Linked DNA regions of Homo sapiens: region 1 is linked to region 2. Evidence: fine-mapped expression QTL. A gene starts in region 2. The other region holds a variant in brackets. All regions are shown on one strand. Distances are between the middles of the regions.

Region 1 (5,374 bases), 22 kb after region 2:
GGGTTACATGTAAAACATAAGGCACAATGAAGCCACTTGAAATTTTGAGGGGAACAAGATTTCAGTTAGGTTTTTCATCTTTGTGTTTGTGTGTGTGTGTGTGTGTGCGCGCGCGCGTGTGCGTGTTTGAGACAGAGGCTCGCTGGGTCACCTAGGCTGGAGTGCAGTGGTGTGATTTCAGCTTACTGCAACTTCCCAGGTTCAAGAGAGACAAAGGCAAACATTGTCTTATTATTTTGAAAAGATTTGGCTGGGCGCGGTGGCTCACACCTGTAATCTCAGCACTTTGGGCGGCGGAGGCGGGCGGATCACCTGAGCTCAGGAGTTGGAAACCAGCCTGGCCAACACGGTGAAACCTTGTCTCTACTAAAAATACAAAAAAAATTAGCCAGGCCTGGTGGCATGTGCCTGTAGTCCCAGCTACTTGCAGGCTGAGGCAGGAGAATCGCTTGAACCCGGGAAGCGGAGGTTGCAATGAGCCGAGATTGTGCCGCTGCACTCCAACCTGAGCGACAGAGTGAGAGACTTCATCTGGGAAAAAAAAAAAAAAAGAGTTTTGACCCTGTGGGCCCCCTGTGAAGGTCTTAGTGTTCCCTAAAGATCCCCATGCCTCATTTTAAGAACCACTGGACTGGTGAGACGGGCATAAGCTGTCTTGGGATCCTGGTATGTGCTACATGAGGTATGCTTCCACCCTTAGCCTGTAGCTTCTCAAGTTTCATTTGAAACAATTTCTACTTTCTTCAGATAGAGGGAGAAGCTGGGAGGCCTGACACCTACCTTTTTGCTTTCCATCGAGGTCAAGGGGGCAGGAGGAAAGAGTACAATGTATTCATTCTGGTTTCTCCCAATTTTCTCAGTCCCACAGACGGCAACACAACAAAGATAAACCCTTCAAGTGCCACAACTGTCATCGGGCGTACACGGATGCAGCCTCACTAGAGGTGCACCTGTCTACGCACACAGTGAAGCATGCCAAGGTGTACACCTGCACTATCTGCAGTCGGGCATACACATCAGTGAGTGCTCCGTTTCTTCTCTCCTTCCTCATAGTCCTCTAAGAGTACAGTCCACTTCACCCCATTTTCTGGGTAGAGATCTGTTGCAGTGAATACCCTGCCTCCCTAGCTCCAACTTAGCAGAACAGGTAAATATTCAGAAATTAATTAGACCCATTCTGAGGAATTTAGGGGATGCCTGATCTCCTAATCCTATAGAGACGCATAAGCTGTAATTCTTCATTTTACTTAAACATAAGGCAAAATAAAGCCACTTGAAATTTTGAGGGGAGCTGGATTTCAGTTAGGCATTTTCTTCTTCTTTTTTTTTTTTTTTTCTTTTTGAGACACAGTCTCGCCCTGTCACCCAGGCTGGAGTGCAGTGGTGTGATCTCGGCTCGGCTCACTGTAACCTCCACCTCCTGGGTTCAAGCGATTCTCCTGCCTCAGCCTCCCAAGTAGGTGGGATTACAGGTGCATGTTGCCATGCCCAGCAACTTTTTGTATTTTTAGTAGACATGGGGTTTCACCATGTTGCCCAGGCTGGTCTCAAACTCCTGACCTCAAGTGATCCACCTACCTCAGCCTCCCAAAGTACTGGGATTACAGGTGTGAGCCACCGCACCTGGCCCAGTTAGATATTTTCCATGAGACTCCAGAAAAGGTTGTAAAGTTGTTTCATTCAGGGGTCTTTGAAAAAAATAGCAGCTCATTCCTTTGCCAGTTGAATGTTGAGTGACTTCTAAAGGTTCCTCTCTTTTTTTTCTCAGTAGTGAGCCACTGAAAGTGCTACTTGAGTTTTGCTCAGTCTTGGCTCCAGAAAACCAGTATAAAGCTTACTCTGCTTACAGCAGAATCAGAGCCTGGGGTGCTAGTTACAAGTAATCTCTTTTCCTTCCTCTTTATCCCTCAACTTCTTTTTACCATCTCCCTCAGGAAACATACCTTATGAAACATATGCGCAAACACAACCCGCCTGATCTTCAGCAACAGGTGCAGGCAGCAGCAGCAGCGGCAGCAGTGGCCCAGGCCCAGGCTCAAGCTCAAGCCCAGGCTCAGGCTCAGGCTCAAGCCCAGGCCCAGGCCCAGGCCTCCCAGGCATCACAGCAGCAGCAGCAGCAGCAGCAGCAGCAGCAGCAGCAGCAGCAACAGCCACCACCACACTTCCAGTCTCCTGGGGCAGCCCCCCAGGGTGGGGGTGGTGGGGACAGCAATCCCAACCCTCCACCCCAGTGTTCCTTTGACCTGACCCCGTATAAGACGGCGGAGCATCATAAGGACATCTGCCTCACTGTCACCACCAGCACCATCCAGGTGGAGCACCTGGCCAGCTCTTAGAGATCCGTGCTGCCACCCACTGGGAAGAGGAAGAAGTAGTCCTGGTGTCTTCTTTCTCCAACTCTTGGTGGGAAAAGTCCTTTTCTTCCTTGACAGGCCTTGGCTCCATCTCCTTGGGCCTCTGTCACGGCTTTCCTTCACAGGATACCATCCTTTTTCTGAACTCTTCTTCAAAAGGAACATCAGCCCTCCTGATTGCAAAGGAATACTGAGCTGATGGTGTCATCCAGCAGCCTCCCCTCCCAAGCAAAGCTTCTAAAACTGGGGGTCGGTGCTCAAGGGAAGGATTTGCTATGACCTCATAGAACCTTGTCCAGTGTGGCCACTTACCCTATCCTTACCCTCCTTATCCTCAAAGTTTGGGCTGATGTAAGACTAGAGGCTGGCCCTCCCAGATAACAGAGAAAAGGGAGCCCCAAATGCAACCAGCCTCTTGTTCTATTCTTGCCTGCAAAAGAACAGAGGTTTCTCAAATGCCTCAGTCCCTGAGAGCCATTTCTTCCCCTACATCGTCTCACTTTGCTTCCTATTGACTGCTGGTAGAAGGAGATTTGGGGTAGGGGCTAGACCTCCTTTTATTTGAAGGGGGCAAGGGCTGAGATGTGGTCCCCAAGGGGCCAGAAATTCCCAAGTTGGTCACAGGTGGCTTAGAAGTGTGTGTTATGGTTTTACGGATTTCCTTGAAGCCTCTCTCCTTCTCTGCCTACAAAGACCCTATACTCTCAGTCTCCCCAACCCACCCCCAAGGAGCTGTGGGAGGCTTTGTGTTATCTGTGAAACTCCAAAACAGGGGTGTTGCGGAGAAGGGAGAGTTCAAGGCAAACGCAAGGACTGGACTTAGCTCCCTAGGTGCCACAGTCAGATGCCGGACACGGATTTATATATAAATATATATATATAAATATATTATAC[T/C]CACTCATCACGGCCATCTTTGTTGTAACCATTTCTGTGTTTATAAATGCATTATCTCTGAGAATTTTCATATTTGATGTTTTGTTTATTTTTGTCCTTTTTTTCCCTCTCTCCACCCCTGTCCTCTAGCCACAGCATTTTTCTTTTTGTCTTTTTTTTTTTTTTTTAAATCATGGCAGATTTCAGAGGAAAGGAAATTAAAAAAAAAATCAGGAAACCAGTTGTTATAAAGTAATTTAAAAATGAAGAAAAAAAGAAAAAAACTTATGTACAAACCAAGGGGTGTTTTTAGAACATTGTATAGAAATAAATTCATGTAAAAGGATCAGAGGCAGTGGAGCTACTGATGTGAGCGAGCATGCGGAAAAGGTATTTGGGGAGATGTCCAAGAACAGTACTGAGGATTTATACCAGAGTGTGTGTGTGATGAACAAGTGCTTGTGTGATGATGCCCCATTTGTGCAATTCTCCAGTCATGGAAGGGTACAGTTTCATGATGTCTCCAGTGAAATCCTGGTTTATGAGGACTTCTACATACACATTCTGTCATGGGGATTGCATTGCCTAAATATGTGAGAGCAAGGCTTTGGTTATGTGTTAACAAAACAGCTAAGCTCCCTATGGAAGAAAAATGGAAGCCTCTTGAAAGGACCTACACTCCTGCCTGAGTCTGTGGAAGAGGGGCTTGCAGTTGGCAATGTGTATACATATGTGTATTTGTTACCTTGTGGAAATCATAACCGGTTAAGGGGTGCAAGATTGATTTATGCAGGAGAGCTGTAGTACTATGGAGTAGAATGTGGTCATGAAACCTGGACTTCAGCCCTTTGCCTACCATCAACCAGTGTTGGCCAGGGTGCTTCTTCAACTGTTAGTGAAGGGATTGGACTAGATAACTCTGAAGATACCTTTTTTGAGAATTAAGTAACTTGCTTTAAGGCTGGGTGCGGTGGCTCACGCCTGTAATCCCAGCATTTTGGGAGGGCGAGGCAGGCAGACTACTTGACGTCAGGAGTTCAAGACCAGCCTGGCCAACATGGTGAAACCCCATCTCTACTAAAAATACAAAAATTGATGGCCGTGCACGGTGGCTCACGCCTGTAATCCCAGCACTTTGGGAGGCCGAGACAGGTGAATCATGAGGTTAGGAGCTCGAGACCAGCCTGGCCAGTATGGTGAAACCCCGTCTCTACTGAAAATACAAAAAATAAGCTAGGCATAGTGGTGGGCGCCTGCAATCCCAGCTACTCAGGAGGCTGAGGCAGGAGAATCTTTTGAACCTAGGAGGCAGAGGTTGCAGTGAGCCAAGATCGTGCCATGGCACTCCAGCCTGGGCGACAGAGTGAGACTCTCTCTCAAAAAAGTAAAATAAAAATACAAAAATTAGCCAGGTGTGGTGGCACGCGCCTGTAGTCCCAGCTGCAGGCTGAGGCAGAAGAATGACTTGAACCTGGGAGGCGGAGGTTGCAGTGAGCCGGGATTGCACCACTGCACTCCAGCCTGGGCCACAGAGCGAGATTCTGTCTGGAAAAAAAAAAAAAAACAAAAAAAAAAAAACCTTGCTTTAAGCACCGAAAAAGTTGTGAAAGTTGTGACCAAGCTCCCACATCCTGAGAACTCTGGGACTGCTGGCCAATAGTACTTGTTATGTAGTTGGGCTGGGATAAATAAAGCCCACTTAATTTAGTGCTAGATATCCTGTGTGGGCACCTAAGATGGTGTCTCAATATGTTGTGTAATACCAATGAATGTATCACATATGACCAAATATGCCAATGTTTCTTAGCTCCCTGCATATTTACTGCTTTTTCCTCCCACTCTCACCAACTCTTGAAAAGGCCCTAATGGCCCTAACTTCATCACCAGTATTAGAACTAGAATCTACTCTTTTTATGGATACACTCACACTCACTTATTCCAACAACCCTATGAGGGAGGTAGTAGTCTCATTGTATAGTAAAACAGGCACAGAGATCAAGTTACCGAAAAGCATGACTTTTGTAATTAGAGCAGTTTCCCGGATTCTATTGCTGTATCTTACTACCTGCACACTAGTAAACCTGGGGTTTACAGGCTACAGATCCTTTCAGCTCTGATACCCCCACCACTCTACAGCCCCTGAACCC
Region 2 (5,313 bases):
AATACACCAGCAAGGTACTGGAAATCCTCACCTGTTCCCTCTTCCTAAATGTCCTCCTTTCCCCATGGAAAGTCAGAAGGCAGGAAAGACAGAGGAGGAAGGAGACTGTTCCAGACTCTGAACTGTACTAAAAAAATTCTCCCAAATGATACTGCACTGTCACGTTAGCCATGAAGAGTCGTAAGGCCCTGGGGAGCAAGCCCTAACTTTTCTCTCCTGTAGTTGAAACAGAGACTGTGGGGCTTTGAGAGGTCCTCAGAAAGCTGCAGCAGAGTCACTAGCCAAGAAAAAAACAATGGCCATGCTGTCCTTTTGGGAACTGGAAGGTTCTTCGAGGTCACACATCACAGCCACCACTGGAACCAGCGTCTCATCACCATCCTTTCTTTGCCTCCTGAGCTGTGCATCAAATGACTCAGCCAGGCTTCTCTTAGCATTTTTCTGGAATGCTTGCCACTGCGGCTTAGACCAAACCAGGGAATGGGGAAGCCCCCAGGAGGAGGGAGGGATCTCCCAGGCACAGCTTAGGGTGTGGAAGTGATTCAAGATGGAAACAGTATGCCAGCTGGAGAACCCCAGGCTAAAATTAACAGCCCTCCTCCCCCTACGCCCCACATTTATTGTTCTAAAGCTTTTCCCTAAGGAGTTCAAAGCACTTGAAACTTCTTTTTTTTTTTTTTGAGATGGAGTTTAGTTCTTGTTGCCCAGGCTGGAGTGCAATGGCGCAATCTTGGCTCACCACAACCTTCGCCTCCCAGGTTCAAGTGATTCTCCTGCCTCAACCTCCCAAGTAGCTGGGAAACTTCCTTCTTATAGCAAGGGCAGGAATAGGGCTGACGGAGACACGGAGACCCAGGAAGTGCCCAGTTAACATAAATAGGAAAAGAGCAGGAGGAGAACCAGAACGTATAGCTATTATTACTATTTCCTGTTCCCACCTTTCAATACCAGCCCCTGATGTCAAGGTTTCTTGAATCAGCAATCTCTAACCCACACAGCAATAGGTCTGGTCACATCTGAGCCCTTAAAATCCTTACTCTGCCAACTGTTGCTACTCAGTCAACAGAGACTGAGTGCTGAGCCCAAAAATGTGATAAAGGGAACAGACACTTTAAAAAAGATACAAACTACAATTACAATGAAATGCATCATCTATTTAAATATTTAAAGGCGTACTTTGTTACTTTCTTGCTTTGACCTTGGGGGAAAAAATCACTTAATCCTTTACAGGCTTATTTTCATTATCTGTAAAATGAGCATTATAATTATTTCTGTTAAAGTTATTTTTTGCTGGGCGTGGTGGCTCACGCCTGTAATCCCAGCACTTTGGGAGGCTGAGACAGGTGGATCAGTTGAGGTCAGGAGTTCGAGACCAGCCTGGCCAACATGGTGAAACCCCGACTCCACTAAAGATACAAAAAATTAGCCCGGTGTGGTGGCGGGCGACTGTCATCCCAGCTGCTAGGGAGGCTGAGGCAGGAGAATCGCTTGAACCCAGGAGGCAGAGGTTGCAGTGAGCCAAGATGGCGCCAATGCACTCCAGCCTGGGCAACAGGGTGACACTCTGTCTTTAAAAAAAAAAAAAAAAGGTTATTTTTCTCAGCAAGAGGCTCTTACCATTAGTAGGAGAGACCTCAGTTCTGCTTAGAGCTGAGCCCAGGGGGATTCTGGCCAGGTCGGGGTGCACGCTTGTAACAGCATTCACTTGTTCAAACAACATATTCAGCATTTACTATATGCTCAGCAAAGCAACGTATTTCCTTCCATGAGGAACTGACAATCTTGCTGGGGAATCACATGTATGAAATAGTTAAAATATCAATAAAAGGTACGTATTAAATACTATGGGAATTCAGAGGGACCATTACAGGTTGGAGCAATCAGGCAAGGCTTCCTAAAAGGGTTCATATTTAGGTGTTCATAATGAACTATAGTTCATTTATACAACAAGAGTTTACAGACCACTTAACTGCCAGGATATGAGGATACAGCAACGAACAATTCAGTCCTCGCTGTCCTGTAGCCAATATTTTAGTTGGGAGAGGTGGACAGCAAACAATAAATCAGGCAGTAATAAGTGCTATATTTAAGTAAAACAGGGTAAGGGGATAGAGATGTGGGTATGGGCAACAAGAAAAGACCAAAGTAAAGTAAGGGATGTGTCAGAGAGACAGATTTTGATGGCTGGGAGAGTTTCTAACTGGACCTAAGTAGGGACCTCCGAAAAACAAGGATACGTCCTAGTCCTTTCCCGCATATTCAAAGCATTGAGACATTCTTGGGGGTATCAGAAAAAATAATGGTAATTTCCTACATCAGCTTATTCAACATCCAGAGGGAAGAGAAACGGGGTCCCAGCATCTGAAGAACCCACACCTCCTCTCCTACCTTGATGGATAATTCATGAACCTGTCGCGTTTCCACCCCCCCACCTTCCCCAGATGTCCCTTCCGGAAGCTCAGGGCCGGAGTCCTCCGGTTTCAGCTTTTGCCCCTAGCGGAACCCGCCTTCACTTCCGCTATAGCGTCACATCCCCTCTTCCCAGTCGCTGGGCAGAAGCTATTTCCGCCCCGAGTTATCGTAACTTCTGCCCTGAATATCTCGCAGCGCTAGCGGCGCCGGAAGTGTTCCAGCCACTCCCGGAAGTGACTCGGCTTCTGCACGCCCCTCTTTCTCCATTAGCGCCCCCCCTACATTGCTATTTCCCTCCCTCCCCCCTTTTCGTTTCCGGCGCTCCCGCCTTCTCTCCGCAGAGCTCTTCTCTGAGCCTGTTGGGGGGAGGGAGGGGGGCGTGGAGGAACTGGGGTTCGCGGGAGCACGAGCTGCAGCACCACTTCCGGGTGAGTGCAAGGGGAGGGCAGCAAGGAGGGGGGGCCACCCACTACCTCGCGCCCCCGCCCTGCGGGTGTCTCGCGCGCGTTCCGTGCGTGTGAGTGTGTGGGTCTGTCTCGCTCCAGAAGTGCGTGCCCGCGCGCTGCGCCTTGCGCTTTTTCCCCTCCCTCGCCCCTTCCTGGTCCTCCCACCCTCCTCGGCTCCCTCCTTTCCCAGCAAACGCCGCCCCTCCCGCGCCCTGGCTCAGGCTCTGGCGCCGCCGCAGCCGTCGCCGCCCGGTGAGTCTCGCGCCGCTACAGCCGGCGCGCGCCAAGCTGCTTGCTCCTCCCCCCTCCCCTTTTCCTTGGGCAGGCGGGGAAGGGGGGGTCCACGATGTGACTGTGTGTGTGTCCGTCCCGGAACCGGAAGTGGTTGTGGAGGAGCGGGCGATGGGAAGGAATGGGGGGGTTTAGGGGGCGGGTGCCTGTCTGGTGGGTGGCAGAGTTCAGCTCCCTGGAGGGGAAGGAGGGACGTCCCAAGGAAGGGTCTTTGAGAAAGGGGTAGGGGACGACATCAGGAGAAGGCTCCCAGGAACTGTCTCAGGGGAGCGAAGGTTTTGAGGGGACAGCTGGGGTCTCCAGTAGATAGACCACGGTGCAGGCTGAGGGAGGTACTTCTTGGCACAAGGCCTCGGGTAGGCAGGGGGCGAAGTCCTCGAAGAAGTGGGGGGAAGGCTAGAGGAAGTGGCTGGGCCTGAACTGGCACTGTGCCTGCCACAAGGTCTTGTGCATCCCCCAGCCCTCAGCTTTGCCTTCTGAAGCCACTCCTCAGGGGCACAGACCCTCCTCCTCCTCCATCTCTAATGTTCTCTGACCCCTGGTTACCTGTGGCCTGGGAACGAACAAGGACCAGTCTCTGAGCCTAGGAGTGAAACCCAAACGCTGGTGATAGAATTCGTCTTAGTTTCTGGGAATTGGATTTATTTCTCTTGTATCCACGTAGAGGGTAGCACTAGACTGCTGTTATTATATCCACCCGTCTTTGGATTGCTGGCTGGGGGGTCTGCCTGCCTTCCAGACTGACTGCTGACAAATAATTCCTGAGGTTCTCCACAGTTCTCTGGTGGCTGCACCCTGCCTGGCCCCTGTAACCTAGACAATTTGTTTACAGAAAGTTCAGGAGCCCTGGAAAGGAGAAGGAATAAGACGGCAGGAGGAAGAGAGAGAGAGGGTAAGATGATTTTTGGGTTAATGGCTTTTCTGGTTTTGGGGGAGAAGGGGTCACAACCAAATGGGGCGTGTGTGTGTTTCACAATGTGATAGAATACTTAAAGTAATAGCAATTGTAATGCTGAGATTGTTGTGGAGAGAAATCAGTTTTTTTCTATTATCTCTTGAGGGTCAGGAAGTTTTTGTGTAAAAAGTTGGCGCTATCCCCCATCACTTTCCATTCCTACTAATGCTCATCAGGAATGAAATATGAAATGCTCAGGTGAAGCCACTGAATAGTGTTGCCTTGTGTCCAAAGGGGAAATCTTTATTCTGCTTTGGGACACAAAGACCCTAAATGCCAATATAGTCCTTATGGAATTGCTTTCCTGTGTCTGGAACAAGCAGAGCTGAGTTTAGAATGGAGTTCCTATCCCAAATAGTCCAGTGGAGTGTTAGAAGTGGGTCTGTGGAGTGATTAGAATCTGTGACACAGGGTTATTTGAATTTGGTATGGCAAGATGAAATTTTCAGGGGAAAAAAAAAACTGCTTCATGGTTAGTCTGGAGTGAAGTGGATAAAACTGTACGGAGTAGACTCCAGAAGTAGGTCTGGAAGAGTTTCGGGTAGCCTGAAAATGACAGTGAGTGGACCTAAAGAGTTTGAGTTCAGAACTTATGATCCCAGAGGTTGGTTTATAAAATGCCCTGTGGGTTTCTGAGCCAAGTTGTTGATTAAATATTGGGTACATATCTCTTCTTCTCCAGTCTTATTTATTTATTTTGGCCTCACATTCCCCAGATCCATCATTTATAGTGGAACAGACAGGGCAAGGAGAACCACCGTGCCGTCCCTCCCACAGGATGCAGGGTAAAGTGGTCCGGTGGTGCCCAGGCTAGAAGCTGTTGGCCCAGGTTGCCAGCTGTGTGGTGGTAGCAGTCCTGTTTAGTTTGTTTGTGTATGGTGTGATGATGTTTCCCAGTAACATTGGGGTGCATTTGTTCTGAGTTACTTGTACTTGGAAGAGTTTATGGATACTGGCGGGAAAGCGTCACATCCTACTGGGATGGCCCTTCTTGAATGTCTTTAGACCCTGAGAGAAAGAGATTTTGTTTCCTTTTGGAGAAACAAAAAAAACTTTCTCTGTGTTTCTTCATTTCAAGTCTTGAGCTAAGGTAACCTTTCTGCAGTTGTGTGTTTTGGAATGGTTTCTCAATAGCGTCTTAAGTTCTTTCTGTAGTTGAATTCAAGTTGATTGTTTTTTTCCATCTTTTTCTTGTTGATGCTACTTGTA

The links. PIP is the estimated chance that this variant, and not a neighbour inherited with it, causes the effect.
Region 1: its variant is fine-mapped to the expression of ZNF384 in whole blood (INTERVAL, PIP above 0.99).

Annotation. Positions count from the first base shown.
Region 1 is chr12:6,664,676-6,670,049 of GRCh38, reverse strand. ZNF384 (zinc finger protein 384) reads left to right here. Exons shown (of 12, transcript NM_001385745.1): 11 at 861-1,019; 12 at 1,935-3,573. The coding sequence ends at 2,336. Among named protein-coding and RNA genes, the nearest start is that of ING4, 4.2 kb to the right of the region's middle. The variant T/C (reference allele first, on the strand shown) is at 3,249.
Region 2 is chr12:6,686,895-6,692,207 of GRCh38, reverse strand. It overlaps ZNF384 (zinc finger protein 384), which reads left to right and starts at 2,833. Exons shown (of 12, transcript NM_001385745.1): 1 at 2,833-3,110; 2 at 3,982-4,041. It also overlaps a transcript of PIANP not described here. RefSeq lists silencers at 2,715-2,794, 2,875-2,984 and an enhancer at 2,355-2,981.